2 separate regions of the Homo sapiens genome follow, and region 1 is linked to region 2. A link means that fine-mapping ties the variant in region 2 to the expression of a gene that starts in the linked region. Tissue or cell type: aorta. Region 2 holds a variant in brackets; the other region holds the start of a gene. All regions are shown on one strand. Distances are from middle to middle.

Evidence for each region. PIP is the estimated chance that this variant, and not a neighbour inherited with it, causes the effect.
Region 1: XRRA1 starts here. The variant in region 2 is fine-mapped to the expression of XRRA1 in aorta (GTEx, PIP 0.97).

What each region holds. Positions count from the first base shown.
Region 1 is chr11:74,944,654-74,952,758 of GRCh38, forward strand. XRRA1 (X-ray radiation resistance associated 1) reads right to left here and starts at 4,438. Exons shown (of 19, transcript NM_001378157.1): 1 at 4,275-4,438; 2 at 365-432. It overlaps SPCS2 (signal peptidase complex subunit 2), which reads left to right and starts at 4,613. Exons shown (of 5, transcript NM_014752.3): 1 at 4,613-4,746. The coding sequence starts at 4,633. RefSeq lists enhancers at 3,806-4,660, 4,158-4,207, 4,328-4,387, 4,518-4,737, 4,661-5,515 and 1 more.
Region 2 is chr11:74,027,558-74,035,662 of GRCh38, forward strand. It overlaps C2CD3 (C2 domain containing 3 centriole elongation regulator), which reads right to left. Exons shown (of 33, transcript NM_001286577.2): 31 at 5,794-6,721; 32 at 730-841. Among named protein-coding and RNA genes, the nearest start is that of UCP3, 23 kb to the left of the region's middle. The variant G/A (reference allele first, on the strand shown) is at 3,237.

The DNA.
Region 1 (8,105 bases), 920 kb after region 2:
TGCTCCCCTCATCAACTTCTCACCTGTTGTGGGGCCTATAATTACCTTATTCACCTGTGTAATCCCAGCATGTAGCATAGAGCCTACGACTCACTAAAAATATGTTGGTAAGATTAATGGATAGATGGATGGATGGGGACAAATTTATATTCAGTCAATATGTCTTTCAGGAACTCTCTCTCATGACCAATCACACACATCTGCTAGAGGTAAATGAAAGAATGAATGAGTAACTTGCTGGCTGGAAAATGTTAGATGTGATGTAATTTGCTGGCTGGAAAATGTTAAATATGATGGCTGTTGGAGAAGCCTTCAGTAACTTACAGAATATGGTGACCTGGCTTCAGGTCTCCAGAGTACTTACTTGATCTTTGACTTTGGGAATGGCCCCTTAACTTCCTTTTTTTTTTGTTTCTTCACTTGTTTCTTTGCCTGTAAGATAAATATTATATTCCTTCTTAGCCTGCTATTCAGAGCTCTTGAACTTCCTCATTAATTATATTCTACTGTGAGCCTTCCACTCCAATATTTGTCTTGCCTTTAGTCCTTGCCCGTAGGACTAAGGATCCAAGAAACAGATAGATACCAATACAGAGATGGAGACAAAGACAAGACATAGATGGGAAGGTGGTATAGGAGAATATAATTATGATAGTGGGGTATGGCTGGAGTGCTTAAATCAGACACACGAAGCACAAACCTGAAAGGACGGGATCGTTTACATGATTATTTACACAAAATAAATTTCTGCCAGATAAAAATAGGAAAGTCAAAGTTGAAAGATAAGACACAGTCTGGGAAAAGATATTTGCCATGCATATAATACAAAAGATGACTCACACTGAAGCCTGTAGGAGGCATGCAGACCTGGATGCTATCGCAGAAATTCTAGTTCCCTATTAGGAATATTAGGTGAGAAGGTGTAGATCTACAACTAATGGGCCAAGAAGGGCACATAACCCCTGGTTACATTATCTAAGACAAGTAAGATCTTTATATGGTAGAAAAAAAAGTCAAAGTTCCAGATTTGGAGGCTGACTTCCTGGTTAGCTTTAGTTACCTCTGGTCTCCATCTCAAACTTGATGCAGCTAATGCCAATCTGACTGTAGCGCTTCCTCCAAAACAAACATCTCTCTTTCTCTCTCTCTCACACACACACACACAGAGTAAGGCATATTTTTGCTTGTTCCATTCCTTTGGCCTATCACATTTCTGCCCCTCTTCCTTGCCCGGCTACATACAGATTAGCTTTCCTGTATCTCCCTCTCCTTAGGCTGAGCCTCCTCAAGCCCACTTCTTTTTTTATTTATTTTTTCTTTTTTTCTTGAGACAAGGTCTCACTCTGTTACCCAGGCTGGAGTGCAGTGGCATGATCTCAGCTCACTGCAACCTCCACCTCCCAGACTCAAGCAATCCTCCCACCTTAGCCTCCCAAGTAGCTGGACCACAGACGTGTGCTACCATGCCCAGCTAAATTTCTATATTTTTGATAGAGATGGGTTTTCACCATGTTGCCCAGGCTGCCTCAAACTCCCAACTCAGCCTCTCAAAGTGTTGGGATTACAGGCGTGAACCCCCTTGCCCAGCCATCAGGCCCACTTCTTAATGGAGGCACTAACATGGTTAGGCTTTGTGTCCCCACCCAAATCTCATCTTGAATTGTAATCCCCATAATCCCCATGTGTTGAGAGAGAGACCTAGTAGGAAGTGATTGGATCAAGGAGGTGGTCCCCCATGCTGTCCTCACCATAGTGAGTGAGCTCTCACGAGATCTGATGGTTTTATAACTGACAGTTCCTCCTTCACACTCTTGCCCTCTCTTGCCTGTTGCCATGTAAGACTTGCCTCTTCCCTTTCCGCCATGATTGTAAATTTCCTGAGGCCTCCCCAGCCATGCAGAACCGTGAGTCAATTAAACCTCTTTCCTTTATAAATTACCCAGTCTTGAGCAGTTCTTTATAGCAGTGTGAAAATGGACTAATACAGGCACTATACCACACTGTATTATAATGCCTGCTTCCTTGTTTGTTCCCCACCTCACTACAGGCTGTGAGTATCTCCAAGGTCAGGTCAGGCCTGGGTCCTACTTACCTCTTTTTCTTTTTTTTTTTTTTTGAGACGGAGTCTTGCTCTGTCACCCAGGCTGGAGTGCAGTGTCGCTATCTCAGCTCACTGCAAGCTCCGCCTCCCGGGCTCACGCCATTCTCCTGCCTCAGCCTCCCTAGAAGCTGGGACTACAGGCGCCCGCCACCATGCCTGGGTAATTTTTTGTATTTTTAGTAGAGACGGGGTTTCAACATGTTAGCCATGATGGTCTTGATCTCCTGACCTCGTGATCCGCCCGCCTCGGCCTCCCAAAGTGCTGGGATTACAGGCGTGAGCCTGTACTTATCTCTTTATCCTGCATCTCACACAGGACCTGGCCTACTGAAGGAAGAGTCTCAATGATTGTTAATTGAACTAACCCAACCCATGAACAAAATGCCACAGGAGCACTTCATGCAGTGGGTGAAGAAAGAAGAAGCAAGTATCAGAAATAGTTTCACAGGGTAGGTGACATTAAAGCTGGATCTTGAAAGATGAGAAGTTGGCCTGGTGTGGTGGTTCATGCCTGTAATCCCAGCACTTTGGGAGGCCGAAGCAGACGGATCACTTGAGGTCATGAGTTCAAGACTAGGCTGTCCAACACGGCGAAATCCTGTCTCTACTAAAAATATAAAAATTAGCCAGGTGTGGTGGCATGTGCCTGTAGTCCCAGCTACAAAGACTACAGCTTGGGAGGCTGAGGCACAAGAACTGCTTGAACCCAGGAGGCAGAGGTTGCAGTGAGCCAAGATCCCACCACTGCACTCCAGCCTGGGTGACAGAGTGAGACTCTGTCTCAAAAAATAAAAAATAAAATAAAAAGTGACTAGGGCAATGCTGTATCATCTCACTTTATTTTAAATAAAAGAAAAATGAGAAGTTGTAAAAGATAAACTGCAACAACAAGCTACAGGGGATCTGACTAGTGTCCACGGATTGCTTCACAGAGGTAATGAAATATCATCTGATGTTATTGCTATTTAGTGATATTTATTTTCTTTTTAGTAATAATTTAGTTATTTAGTGATAATTATTTTCTTTTCTTTCTGATCTCGGCTCACTGCAACCTCCGCCTCCCCGGTTCAAGCAATTCTCCTGCCTCAGCCTCCCAAGTAGCTGGGATTACAGGTGCCCGCTACCACGCCCGGCTCATTTTTGTATTTTTAGTAGAGACGGGGTTTCACCATGTTGGCCAGGCTGGTCTTTAACTCCTGACCTCAGGTGATCCGCCTGCCTTGGCGGGGATTACAACCATGAGCCCCCACGCCCGGCCGAGATAATTATTTTCACATGAATTTTGGCTTCCCCAAGACAAGTTTTTGTCTGTTTTATTCAGGGATATATCCCTGGTGACTAGAATAGTGCCTGTTACATAGTAAGAAACTCAAAAATATTTGTTTAATTCTTTAGACGCTTATGGGGGATATATAGGAATTAAAAAACAATACAACGTAATAGAGCATGGTATAATACAATACTGCTATTTGATAACTCTGTCATGGAGTAGTAGTTCCACCAGAGTAGCAACCAGGTCTATCTTGATCCCCTGTATCCGTTAGTACAATATTGGTGCTCAATATACATTTGTGAAAAAAATTAATTAAAATACAACGTAATAGAGCATGGTATAATACAATACTGCTATTTGATAACTCTGTCATGGAGTAGTAGTCCACCAGAGTAGCAACCAGGTCTATCTTGATCCCCTGTATCCGTTAGTACAATATTGGTGCTCAATATACATTTGTGAAAAAAATAATTAAAATCTAGAATACTATTACATCCTAAAACCGTAAAAGCAGAGTGTCAGAAGGGATATATATTGGTTTTGATTTTTTTTAAATGCCGGCTTGAAAACCGAGTTCAGATACATGCTATCTGGCTTTGGGTAGGTTCTTTAGTTTCCTCCTCATCTAACAGGGCTGTTGTGGGACTCAGTGAGAGAGAGGATGGCTGGAAGTGCACATAGGATACTGCCTGGCAGACTGTAGGCACTCAGTAAACGCGAGTTCTCCGTTAACACGAAAACATTACAAACAGCTAAAATGACAGCTGCTTGAGAGAATAATCGGTAAGTGCCACAACCGGGCTAGAAAAGGATGAAGGACAAGCTCCTGCCCACTCCTTTGGAAACTCCACACCTGGGCCGGAGAAAGACTCGAATTCGAAAACTAAGTTTCAGTCGCACCTGCCTCCGGCGTCGCTTCAGCCTCCGAGGGGTCTGCGGAGGCGACGTCCCAGTCAGGAGGGATGCGCGCCTGCGAGCCCCCCGGGGATCTCGGAGCCGCTCCACTGCGGTGCCTGCCGCTATCTTCCCCACGCCTTAGTAACTGCGACGCGACGGCAGACAGTGTAGGCGGCAACCGACGGCCGGGACGTCTAACCTCAAGTCCCAGCAAGCCCCGCGGCCACGTCCTCTGACTACCTCGCGCCAGCAAGACCCAAACTACGGATCCCGATTGACTCCGCGCGGCGCGTCACGCTGTCAGCTCCAGCCAATCGGCTTCAGACAAGTCGGAGGGGAGGGAGACGCAGAGGCGGACAAGATGGCGGCGGCAGCTGTACAGGGCGGGAGAAGCGGTGGTAGCGGAGGCTGTAGTGGGGCTGGTGGTGCTTCCAACTGCGGGACAGGAAGTGGCCGTAGCGGCTTGTTGGATAAGGTGAGGAGCCGGTTCTTGGGAACAGTTGAATCCTGGGGAGGCCTGGGAGGCGGCGAGCCAACCTTCCCATCCCGGTCTCCCTTATTTTCTACGGCCTTTTGAGGGGAGCCCTTGTGTGACCACTATCACAACCCTACGCACGCTTGGAGCCTGCCCTTGCCCTCATCACACTTCAAACCTGGACCCGGTCCTCTTTAGAACTTCTTCTTTTCTCGCAAGTGTTCTGGTCCTGGTCGCCACACCTTTTTCGGTAATTTGATTTTTCCTATATTTAATCGTGTCCATCTCTTTTCTCCTGGGGGGCTGGGTGCACTGTTGTCAGTGCCCATTTCACAGACACGGAAAACCGAAGCCCAAAGATTAAAGAATCAGTATCCCCCAAACTCTCTACCACCATCACCCTTGCGTGCTGCTACAGATTCCAAAGTGCTTCTTGTCCTTTTGCTTACTGAAGTTTTTAGGCGTTTTATCATGATAGGCGAATACTGAAAATATTTGAGTATTGACTGTTCTACTGGGCTGACAAGAAGCCTTTAAGATTTTTCTTTTTTTCCTGTTGTTTTTCCCCGCCCTCTCCTCTCTTCCCTCCACCTCCCTCTTTGCTACCAAGTGCACTGCTGCCCGCTCACGCTTGCCCCTTTCCTCCCTCTGCTCATCCAAAAAAATTTTTTTTAACTGCAGTCCTAGCAACAAGGGTTTAAAAGAAAAGAAAAAAAGGAAAACTGTCCCTGGGTTGGCCTTTCTTGCTCTTTGCACAGCATCTTGGAAGAAACAGTTGCACGGAGAACAACGTCCTGGTGTTGATTTTGCCTCTAATTAGCTTTGTGACCTTGAAATATGCTTGCTCTCTCTATATCTGTTTTCTCATCTGCAAAGTGAGAGATTTAGCCTTAAAATGAGGGACTTAACTCTAAATTCCCTTCCAGTTCTCTCATTGTAGGGCCCTGGGCTGGTTTGATGAGAATTGTTAAGCATGGTGTCTTTAATATAGTAAGCAGAATTTTTGAATATAATTGAAAACAGCTTTCAGACTTCCCTGTGCATAACACATGGTAGGTGCTTAAGAAATGAAAACATGATTATGTTGAGGGGTTAAGATCCAGGTCTTTTTACTTGTCTTTTTGAGTGTCATTGGTTTTGAAAGACATGGTTCTCACACTCTTCTCTTGTGAGAGGGGTCACGCTCCATTGCCCAGAATGGATCTTAGCTCACTGCGGCCTTGAACTCTTAAGCTTAGGTGATCTTCCCACCCCAGCTTCCTGAGTAGCTGGGACTGCAAATGTGCACCACTATGCCTGACTAATTTTTTTGCTTTTAACTTTTCTGTAGAGTCAGGGTCTTACTGTGTTGCCCTGGCTGGTCTCAAATTCCTGGGCCTCAAGAGATCCTCCCACCTTGGCTCCCCAAAGTGCTGGGATTACAGGCATAAGTCACCATGCACCTGGCCTCACACTCAAACCTTAAGATACAGAAACATATTCTGGAGGTTGGGATGGTAAATTGCTTCAAGACATGTGAGAGTATGGGGAATTGATGGTCATTTGTGTACACAAATCCTTCCCTCTTGCTAGGTAAGCACCTCATAGCCTGTGCTTACCTGCCCCACTAACTGCTCTTGCTCTTCCTTGCACTTGGATCATCATCAGCAAACATTAAGTATGGGCATTCTGCTAAGGCAGTATAGAATACTATTATTATGGAATAGTGTATATGGCACCATTGTGTTATTGAAAGAACCCGGATGTGGGGATCATAAGATTTCAGCTTTGAAGTATTTCTGCTACTTGCTAACAGTATGAAGATTGGCAAGTCACTTAACCTTTCTTCATTTGGAATTTTGGAATCTCTGGCACCTAGATCACAGGGTTTTGGGAAGAACCAAGTAAGACAGTACACATTAATGATCTCCATTACCTGTAGTGTCCAGTACAGATGTGTGATGGTGGAGGAGTAAATCAAGAATCCTACTGTCAGAGAGCACTCAGAATAGCCAAATATAGGAGATGGGGTAATTGAATCTATTTAAGGAAGTATATGGTATATTCGCTCAAGTGTGTACTTGTTACGGAAGTTCAAATGAGAGAAATAGAGTGAACCCTGCGAGCTTATTGATAAGAGTAAGAGCCTCGGCCGGGCGCAGTGGCTCACACCTGTAAACCCAGCACTTTGAGAGGCCAAGGCAGGCGGATCACCTGAGGTCGGAAGTTCAAGACCAGCCAGACCAAGATGGAGAAACCCCATCTCTACTAAAAATACAAAATTAGCGAAGTGTGGTGGTGCATGCCTGTAATCCCACCTACTCGGGAGGCTGAGGCAGGAGAATCGCTTGAACCCGGGAGGTGGAGGTTGCAGTGAGCCGAGATCACGCCATTGCAGTCCAGCCTGGGCAACAAGAGGGAAACTCTGTCTCAAAAAAAAAAAAAAAAAAAGAGTAAGAGCCTGAAGGAAAGGCCTCATTCCTGAAAGTGGAACTGGCACCTTATTTGGGGGGAGAAAAGAAAGACATGCCAGGTAAAAAAGTCTCCTTGAGTAAAGTTACACAGATGTGATGGTGTTTTATGTTTCTCAGGTATTGAGTTGACTAGAAGGCTCTCTAAAGGAACTGTAGTGACAAGTAGATAGCATCTGATTAGGGAGGCCGTGGATTGCTTGAAGTAGAGGAAAGCTGTTGAAGGGTTTTGAGACTGTGTAAAGTGGTTTTTAGGAAAACTATTCAGATGGTTTGGAGAGACAGAAATTAGAAGACTTCTTAATAAGGCCGTATACACAGTAGTGTATAATATATAATAAAAAGAGACAAATTTGAGTTCTAGTGCCGCATGTTATTAGGTTGGTGCAAAAGTAATTGCTGTTTTTGCCATTGAAAGTAATGGCAAAAACCACGATAACTTTTGCACCTACCTAATAAAAGCCACATGACCTTGGATAAGTTGTGTGATATTACTGAATTTAAATTTCCTTATGTAAATATTGTGGACATTCATACATATTATAGGCTTGTTGTAAGGATCAAATTGTATAGTGCTGGTAAATGTTCTTTGGGTTTTTTAGTTTGGTTTCCTCTGCCCTTTTTATTTTATTTTTATTTTTATTTTTGGTAGAGACAAGGTCTCACTGTGTTGCCCAGACTAATCGTGAACTCCTGGCCTCAAGTGATCTGCCCACCTCAGCCTCCCAAAGTACTGGAATTACAGGCATGAGCCACCGCACCCAGCTCTGTTCCCTGTCCTTTGGAATCTACTAGAAGTAAATGTTCTTTGTAAAGGGCTGTCTGTGGTAAAAAATAGAATGACAAGGTGATGAGAACCCCAACATGAGTAGCAGAAATAGATAAAAGGTCTCACAAAAGAGTGCTTGG
Region 2 (8,105 bases):
CCCTGTTCTTTATCACAGCACCTGGTACTCATCTCATCAGTCTATAAATATTTTATTTTTTGCTCATTATTTGTGCTCCATGAAGATAGGGAATTTGTCTGTCTTATTTACTACTATATGCTCAGTATCCAGCATGACACCTGATACAGGGTAGGTACTCAAAAGCAGTTATTATTAAGCAGTTATTATTATTGTTTATTTTCTTGGTACTTGCAAGAAAGTTCAGGTGCTCTGCCAAGGCAGAAAAGAGGAGATGTGGGATTTGTACCAGAGTTCCAACCACCTACTTCAGCTGAATGAATAGTTATGAGGTGTTTTGTAAATGGCAAATAGTTGTACGACTGATATTATTCTCCTCATCCAGATCTTACTGTTGTACTCCCGTAAGGTTGCATCTCCGCTCCTATCTACCTGCTTGGTGGGGACTCCCACAGCACTCAATACACATTTCTTAGCTGCCTCTTGCTTTCATGCTTCTGCACAGCTTTTTTCTTCCCCATGTCAGTCTTGGCTGACAATGCCCTGCTCTTGCATATTTGCTCTTCCTCACTTTTCCTGAGCTCCCTGCCCACTGCTGGGCCCACAGAATATGCTCAGTACAAACTTGAGGAGTGACCCCTGCTGCAGCCTTTCCAGGAAGATGACCTGGGGCAGCTCTGCATTCTGTGCACACTTCTGTGGAAGAGATGATGACTCTATAGAAGAAAGGTCAGTTGGCCATTCTCTTACCTGATCTGTTGTGGCTGCTGGTGGCAAAGTTGCTGAGAGTGAAAGCATCCGCAGGGAAGCCTCCAACTGCTGGGGAGGCAAAAAGAAGTTGGGCACCACAATGGGCCCTGGGCTACAATGGTAGTTAAGGGACAAAAATACCTAGAAGTCCACCCCTCTTGCAGTGGAGGCCAGCATCTCCACTGACCATTCACTCTGCCCCCACTCATGTTTTTCCCTCAACTATTCTTGTCCATAAATTCTTTGCTCAGCTGGCTCCCTCTGACTGGAAGGCTTGCCCACTCCTAACACATATAAGTTTTTTATGGATCAGTTCAAATCCGGCCTCCTCTAGGAAGCTTTCTCTTAATCTTAGCCCCACAGTGATCCCTCCTTCCTCACATCCTAGAGCAGTCTGCAACACAGGAGAATGCTTAATTATTTAGTCTGATATGATTATTTTCCTCAATCTTCCCTAAATTTCTCAATGGCACAGACAGTTTCCTTCTGTTACCTCTACTTCCTGAAAGCCCCTCAGGAGGCTGGCAGGTAGCAGGCGTTGAATGATTCTTGCCTAAGGGCCTGCTAGTTAGAAAAAGACCTATTAGAAGTCAGTCAGGGGATGTGGGGATTGGGATGTGGCTCCAGGGGGCAGTGCCTTAGGCTGCATTTAGGTGCCCTGCACTGAAGGAGGGCCTGCTTGCCTATTTTCTCTGCTCACATTCAGAAATGAGAGCTCTGCATCAGGGGCTGTCCATGACGGGACATGTCCTCATGTCAGGGACCAGTACAGCTGGTCCAATCTGGATGTGAGCCCTAGAAGGCAGGTACTGTTATCTTGCACTTCTCCTCCGTATCTTCTTGAGGTGCTCAGTGCTGTGTTGAGAATATGGTGTTCTACAGGTATTTTTTGAATCAAATCACTGATTCAGTTTAGTTGAACTCTGAAGGGGGTAAAGAGGGGACTATTTTGATGTTCCAATTTTTTGTTTCTGTTTAATAAGTATGGTTCTCACTCCAATTTGCTTACCACATTTCCTATTTTATCGTCGTTCTTCTACATTAGACTCTAAACTTCAAGAAGGCAGAGATGATCTGTCTTTCATAACCATATTCCTGTCACCTAGCATAGTACCTGGGAGACAGTAAGTACTCAATAAATATCTTGTGAATGAATGAAATGCATTGATTTCTTGCTTTGGTTCAAGTCCCTGATTTTTCTGTAGAGAGGTGGGGGAGGAATGGAGATCCCGAAGGGAAAGACCCTTTGACTCCAGGCCTTCTGCAGAGGCCCAGGTGAGGTAGGATCTATTTGCTGTTGCTGAAACTGCTGGGGACTGCCAGACAGCCAGCTGATGCTGTGGGGAAGAAAGAACTTTGCTGTGAGGTGTCAGGGCTGGCTCTGAAGCATGGAAGTCTCTTTCCCAGCCCATTGCCTCATGTGTGCTTTAGGGTCCTGCTCCAACAGGCACTTTCTCCCACCAACTTTTATTTTGTTATGTTTTTTGAAACAGGGTCTCACTCCCATTGTTCAGGCTGGAGTGCAGTGGCGTGATCATGGCACACTGCAGCCTTGACCTTCTGGGCTCAGGTAATTCTTCCACTTCAGCCTGCAGAGTAGCTGGGATTACAGGCACATGCCACCATGCCTGGCTAATTTTTGTATTTTTAGTAGAGATGGAATTTTGCCATGTTACCCAGGCTGGTCTTGAACTCCTGACCTCAAGTGATCCTCCCACCTTGGCCTCCCAAAATGCTGGGATTACAGGTGTGAACCACTATGTCTGGCCTCATGAACTTTAAATTCCTGTTCCTCAGTTCATAAAAATGTTCAAGTTTCCCATTTAGGGAAACAAACAAACAACCCCCTGACCTTGCATTGTCTTCTAGTTACCACCCAGCTCTCTGTCACTTACTAGATGGATAACTTCAGGAAAGTTCACTTTTTGTGCCGCAATTTCTCCATTTTTAAATGTATTAGTACTTATTGTTTTAAGGATTAAATGAATTTATATATGTAAAGTGCCTAGAATGGTGCCTCGATAAATGTCAGCTATTCTTATCTCCTCAGTTTATGTGAAAAAGTTGTCTGTTCTCACTGTCCTCACCATTAGCTGCTTTGACTAATGAAGTCTGGCTTCCATTCCCACCACTGTAAGGTCCTCCTTAACACTAAAACCAGTGATACATGTCAGCCACATTCTCCCGGACCTGTGTGCAGCGTCAGTGCTGACCACGACGTCCTGAAACTCTGCAGCATCTGCTCCTACGGCACCTCTCTCTCCGCTGCTTCTCCCACCTCCTGACCAGCTCTCCTCATCTCCTTTGTGGGCATGCCCTGTCCTGCTTCTCTTTGCACACTGGAGATGCTCAGAGTCTGCCTCTGTGTGTTTGGTTCCCCCTTCCCAGGCTCTTCTTGCTGCCCTCATCGACTCCCAGAGATGCCTACCTTTATGGCTGAGCTCAGCCCTCAACTTCACTCCTCCTGCATCTCCTCCTGGATGTCCTACAGGCACATGCCCCAAACG[G/A]CAATCTGCATCGTCTCCCAAACCTGTCTATGTGCTGTTTCCTATCCAGTAAATGATATCACCTGCCGGGTAACTTGTGACAGAAACCTCTAATTACACTTTCTATTTCCTTTGTCTCATCCCCTGCCCCTCTATCTAATCCTCTCAGATCTGTTCCCCTCGTCTTCATCATAAAGCAGTCTATACTTCAGGTCAGACTTTCTTCATCTCTTGTTATTATTGCAAGTGTCCTAACTAGCCTCCTTGTTTCTAGTCTTCCCTTACTTAACCTGCTCTCTACAAGGCACTGGGTGACTTCTTTTCTCATATGTACATCTGACCATACCACACTCTTGCTTAACAGTGAACACTATTCATGTACCAGGTATTGTGCTAGGCAGTTTACATGATTATTTTCATTTTCATTTTCACAACAACCCAGTAAGTACTATTATCACCTCCATTTTACAGATGAGGAAAGTGAAGTTTCTTTGCTTTAGAATAGAGTCCAAGTACCTCAGCCAGGTATAGAAGTCCTTTAAGATCCAGGCCTTGCCTCACCTCGCACCATCCCCTCATCCCTGGACTCTAGCCACAGTGAACTACTGCCCACAGGCAGCCTCCTTCACCCAGCGAGGCCTCTGCACACACAGTTTGTCCTGACTAGAACTTTTCCTTGTCTCTATTGCACAATGCCTATTCATCTTTAAGGCCTGGCTCTCCTGTCTCTCTTACTGGGATGGCTCCAAGTAGAGTTAGGGCAGCTCCCTCCTCATGGTCCCTCGCGTTCTGTCCACATCTCATCACAGTACTTGGCACAATAAACTGTCAGTATCTATCTACTTGACTGTCTCCTATCTCATAATGGGAACTTCTCGAGGTAAGGTCTCATTCAAATCTGTCCTTGGCACCCAGCACAGGGCCTGGCACGATTTATTTTTGAAAGAATAGTCAGGAAGGCCTAAGTTAAAGCAGCACTTAGGGTCTGGGCACATGTGGCATCTCCTCCATCGGCCATATTCTGAGCACAATTAATACTGACTGCAAAGGCAGCAACATTAGGGGCCAGGATCCAGGATGGGCAAGGCCAGGGAGAACTGCACACAAGGAGGTCTATTTTCAAAGCTCAGCCTCCAGCCATTGCATGCTTTAATCCTTTCCTGAGCCCACTCTCCCACCCCTAGGTTTTTCTCTGATCTGCATCAAGAATCATACTGTGTGGTGTGTACAAATGTTTCCACTCATTTGGTTTTCTCAACAATGTTGTGAAACTGTGATAGTTCAATCCAATCTACATTTACCAATCCCTTCTCTGTGTAGTGCTAGGTCCTGAGGATGCAGAAAAAGACAAGGTCCCTGACCTGGGGAGCTTATAATTTGGTGGGTAAGGGATTTCCGCCTCCATTTTACAGGTGAAGAAACGTGCACATAAAGATTAAACTATATGTCTATAATCACAAAAATAATTTTGTGGGTCTAGAAGGGTCAAAGTCAGGCTCCCTGACTTCTAGTAGAGGAAGATCTCTAGTCTAGTAAAGCAGCCTGCTTCACCTGCCAGCCGTACAATATTCCCTGCTTGTTGGGATAGCAGGTGAGCTGATCTGATCAGCTGGTTAGGCTACAGGTGTGAAGGCTGTAGATGGTCCTAAGTGGTTTCCTTTCCCCATAACATGCCAGTCTGTGTTTAAAAGGAAGGAGTGGGGAATGTCAGGTGCCCCCTGTTCCCATCAACAGTACCTTACTGGGGACTTGGGAAAGTCCATCTCCATGGTGCCTGTTTAGCTCCATCACTTCCTTTTTTAAAAAAATTTAATCTGGCCAGGCGTGGTGGCTCAAATGCTCTAACTGCAGCATTTTGGGAGGGTGAGGCAGGAGGATTGCTTGAGGCCAGGAGTTTGAGACCAGCCTGGGTGACACAGCAAGACCCCAACTCTTAAAAAAAATTAGCTGGGTGTGATGCTGCATACCTGTAGTTCTAGCTACTTGCAAGGCTGAGGTGGGAGGATCACCTGAGTATAAGAATCTGAGGCTGCAGTGAGGTATGGTAATAACCTTGTACTCCAGCTTGGGTGACAGAATAACCTGTCTCTTAAAAAAAAAAAAAGGCAAGTCACAATAACTGAGCATCAGTTTCCTTATATATGCAAAATAGGGATGATACCTACCTAAAAGACTTGTGATGACTGAATGAAAAATGTACATAAAGTGCTCAATGGCAGTGATTTTCTTTCCTCTTTCTCTAGACCCTCTGCTTCTCTTTCAACTGATAAATAGTCTCATTCCTTAGATCCCAAGCCTTGCCTTCAGGTGGTAAAATACCCAACAGATGAATTGGATAAATCAGGGTAGGCTAGGCTAATGTGCTACGAATGCCTAAACCCAGTTCAAGGCATTATGTTTCTGAGGGCTGGTGTTAATGGTAAAACTGTAGCACCTGTCATGCAGGTGGGGTCTTCTGAAGGAATGGTCTTTCCATGCCCCCTAGTGCATTCCATGAGGGTGGCCACTTGCTCACACTCACACTAGGCTAGTCTAAGTACCTGCATCCAAACCACTTGTGGGAAATGCCAAAGGATACAGCAGGAGGCTCTGCTTTGTGGACGTCTCTGATCCAGTTGTCACCTGCCTCTGCCTGATGTCAGAGGAGTCGATGGGTGGTCCCTTATGGTTTTCCCTTCTGCTCTGGGAGGCTAGATTTAGCGGCAACTTCTTGAAGCTATCAGCAGAGTCACCGAGCTCACTGGTGGCAGCTTCATTCTCAGCTGGGGCCTCTGACTTGGGCTCCTTGTTCTGATCTGTCTGTGGTGAGCTCCATCCAACAAACGTGCTGCTCTGTTGAGCTCCTGAGAGTGTTGGGCATGGGATGGGCTGAGGGTTGGCTGAGGCAGACTCGCCACCAACCCTGGCCTTAGAGGCCTCACACTCACAAGCAACAAGACTTTGGCTAGGAGAACCCTGCCTAGGCAGGTGGGGGTTGACAGCCCTTTCTGGGCTGGAGAGAAAGCTACTTTTGACCATAAGCTCCTCTCTGCAGAAAGGCCCTGGAGAAGGACAAGAGGGGCCTTCCCTCTGCACCTCGTCAGGCTGAGGGCTGATGACCTCACTTGTGTCTGATATGACACTAGACCAAGGGCTAGTTTTGTCTGTCACCGTGGTGATCTCATTTAAGGTCCTGGGCTCAATGATGTCTTCTTCATAGTCCTCATCACTGTAGGCTGGGCCTGCCTCAGTGTCTTCACTGCTCTGCATCCTTGTAATGGGTACTGCATGCCTCAGGGACTCATGGAGCATTCTTCCTCCATTTGAAGTCTCTTCGAGAGGAGGGGGTGATGGGGAATCTGTGCCTTTATCTGGAGCTCTTACCAATGGCTCATCTGGCATTGTGCATCGTTCTTGCAGTGCTTCTGTGTCCTGAGCATCTGGGAGGGTGGTGGCCTTGTTGCTTCTACTCCTGGCTCGGTGAGAACTCAAAGCTGCTTGCGAATCCCTGGTGATAGTCTGCAGATCTGAACAGCAACACATATCACTCTTATTACAAGGTAGGGCCACAGACCCCTCAAATTTCCCACACTAGCCTTTAGCTTCAGAAGCACTATGGCAATCAGACTCTGAACAAACCATAAAGAAAATTAGTCCACCCAAGATTCAGTGAGACTATATTCAAGGCGGTACAATTTTTAGTACTTTATTCTAATATCAGAGGACCAGAATCTAATCTATAGTTGTGGATACATCTGTGGAAATGCTTTCAGAGACTATCTGCTCATGCTCAGGAATCGTTGGGAGCTGGGAGTCCTGGTGGGCATGTTCATGCTTCCAGTTACTTCAGTAACTACCTATATTAAAAATCAAAATGAGAATCCACTTATTTACCTATTTGATGACAGTTATTAAAACTACCTATTTTACTTCGAAAATAAAAGCAAGGAAATATCTATCACCCATATGATAAGGCAGGGAAGATTTACACAGAAAATAGAAGCAGCAAGGTATGTTGGAAAGAGCATAGGCTTTGGAGCCGGTCAATCTTGGGTTCGAATCTCTGTTGTCACTTGTTAACTTTGTGATCATAAGCAAACCATCCTCTCTGAGCCTATTGATCTGTACAGTGTAATCAACACCACCCACTTCATAAGGTTACAGTAGAGAATACACGAAAGAAATGGGCATACACTGTGTGGTGAATATATAACCACTTAATAAACAGAAGCTACTAGTCATCTCAAATTATTTTTGGGATGGAATGGGAGTGAATCAATTAATAAATAGACCCAGTAAATGATACATGTTTGCAAGATTATTTGAGAGGAGAAAATTAGGAACTGAAGGCAAATTTGATTCCTGGGGAATAGGGGTCACATCTCCCTCACAGCACCTAACAGAGGGCTCACTCTACAGGAGGTGCTGGCTGTTTAATATTATACACTGATGATTTTCAGGCCTCAAAGGAATGGGTAGATAGACGAAAATGAAACATTACTACCTGTAAATAGGAATAGGCATGGGGAAGCATGTTTAGTTAATCCTAATCCTTTGGCCTGAACATGCTTTCTGTCTCAGAGCAGTCTTCTTGCTTTTTATAAACTTGCCCAGCCTTCAAGGCCATGTTCTATTGGATCTCCTCCAGGAGGCCTTCCCAGATTCACGAGTTAAATAAGATTGCTACATGGCTTTGTTCTATAAGGAAGCACTTAAGAATATGACACTGTGTAATTGTATGTTTACCCCATCAGACTGTGAGCTTCTCAGGGCATGAACCATATGTCTGAATCATGTTGTATCTCTAGGGCCTAGCCTAGCATATAGCTCTGGCTTAAAAAAAACCCCACTCAGTAACTCTCTCAAGTTTCACTCATATCCATTTGTCTGATGGCTTTGTAAAAACAGCAT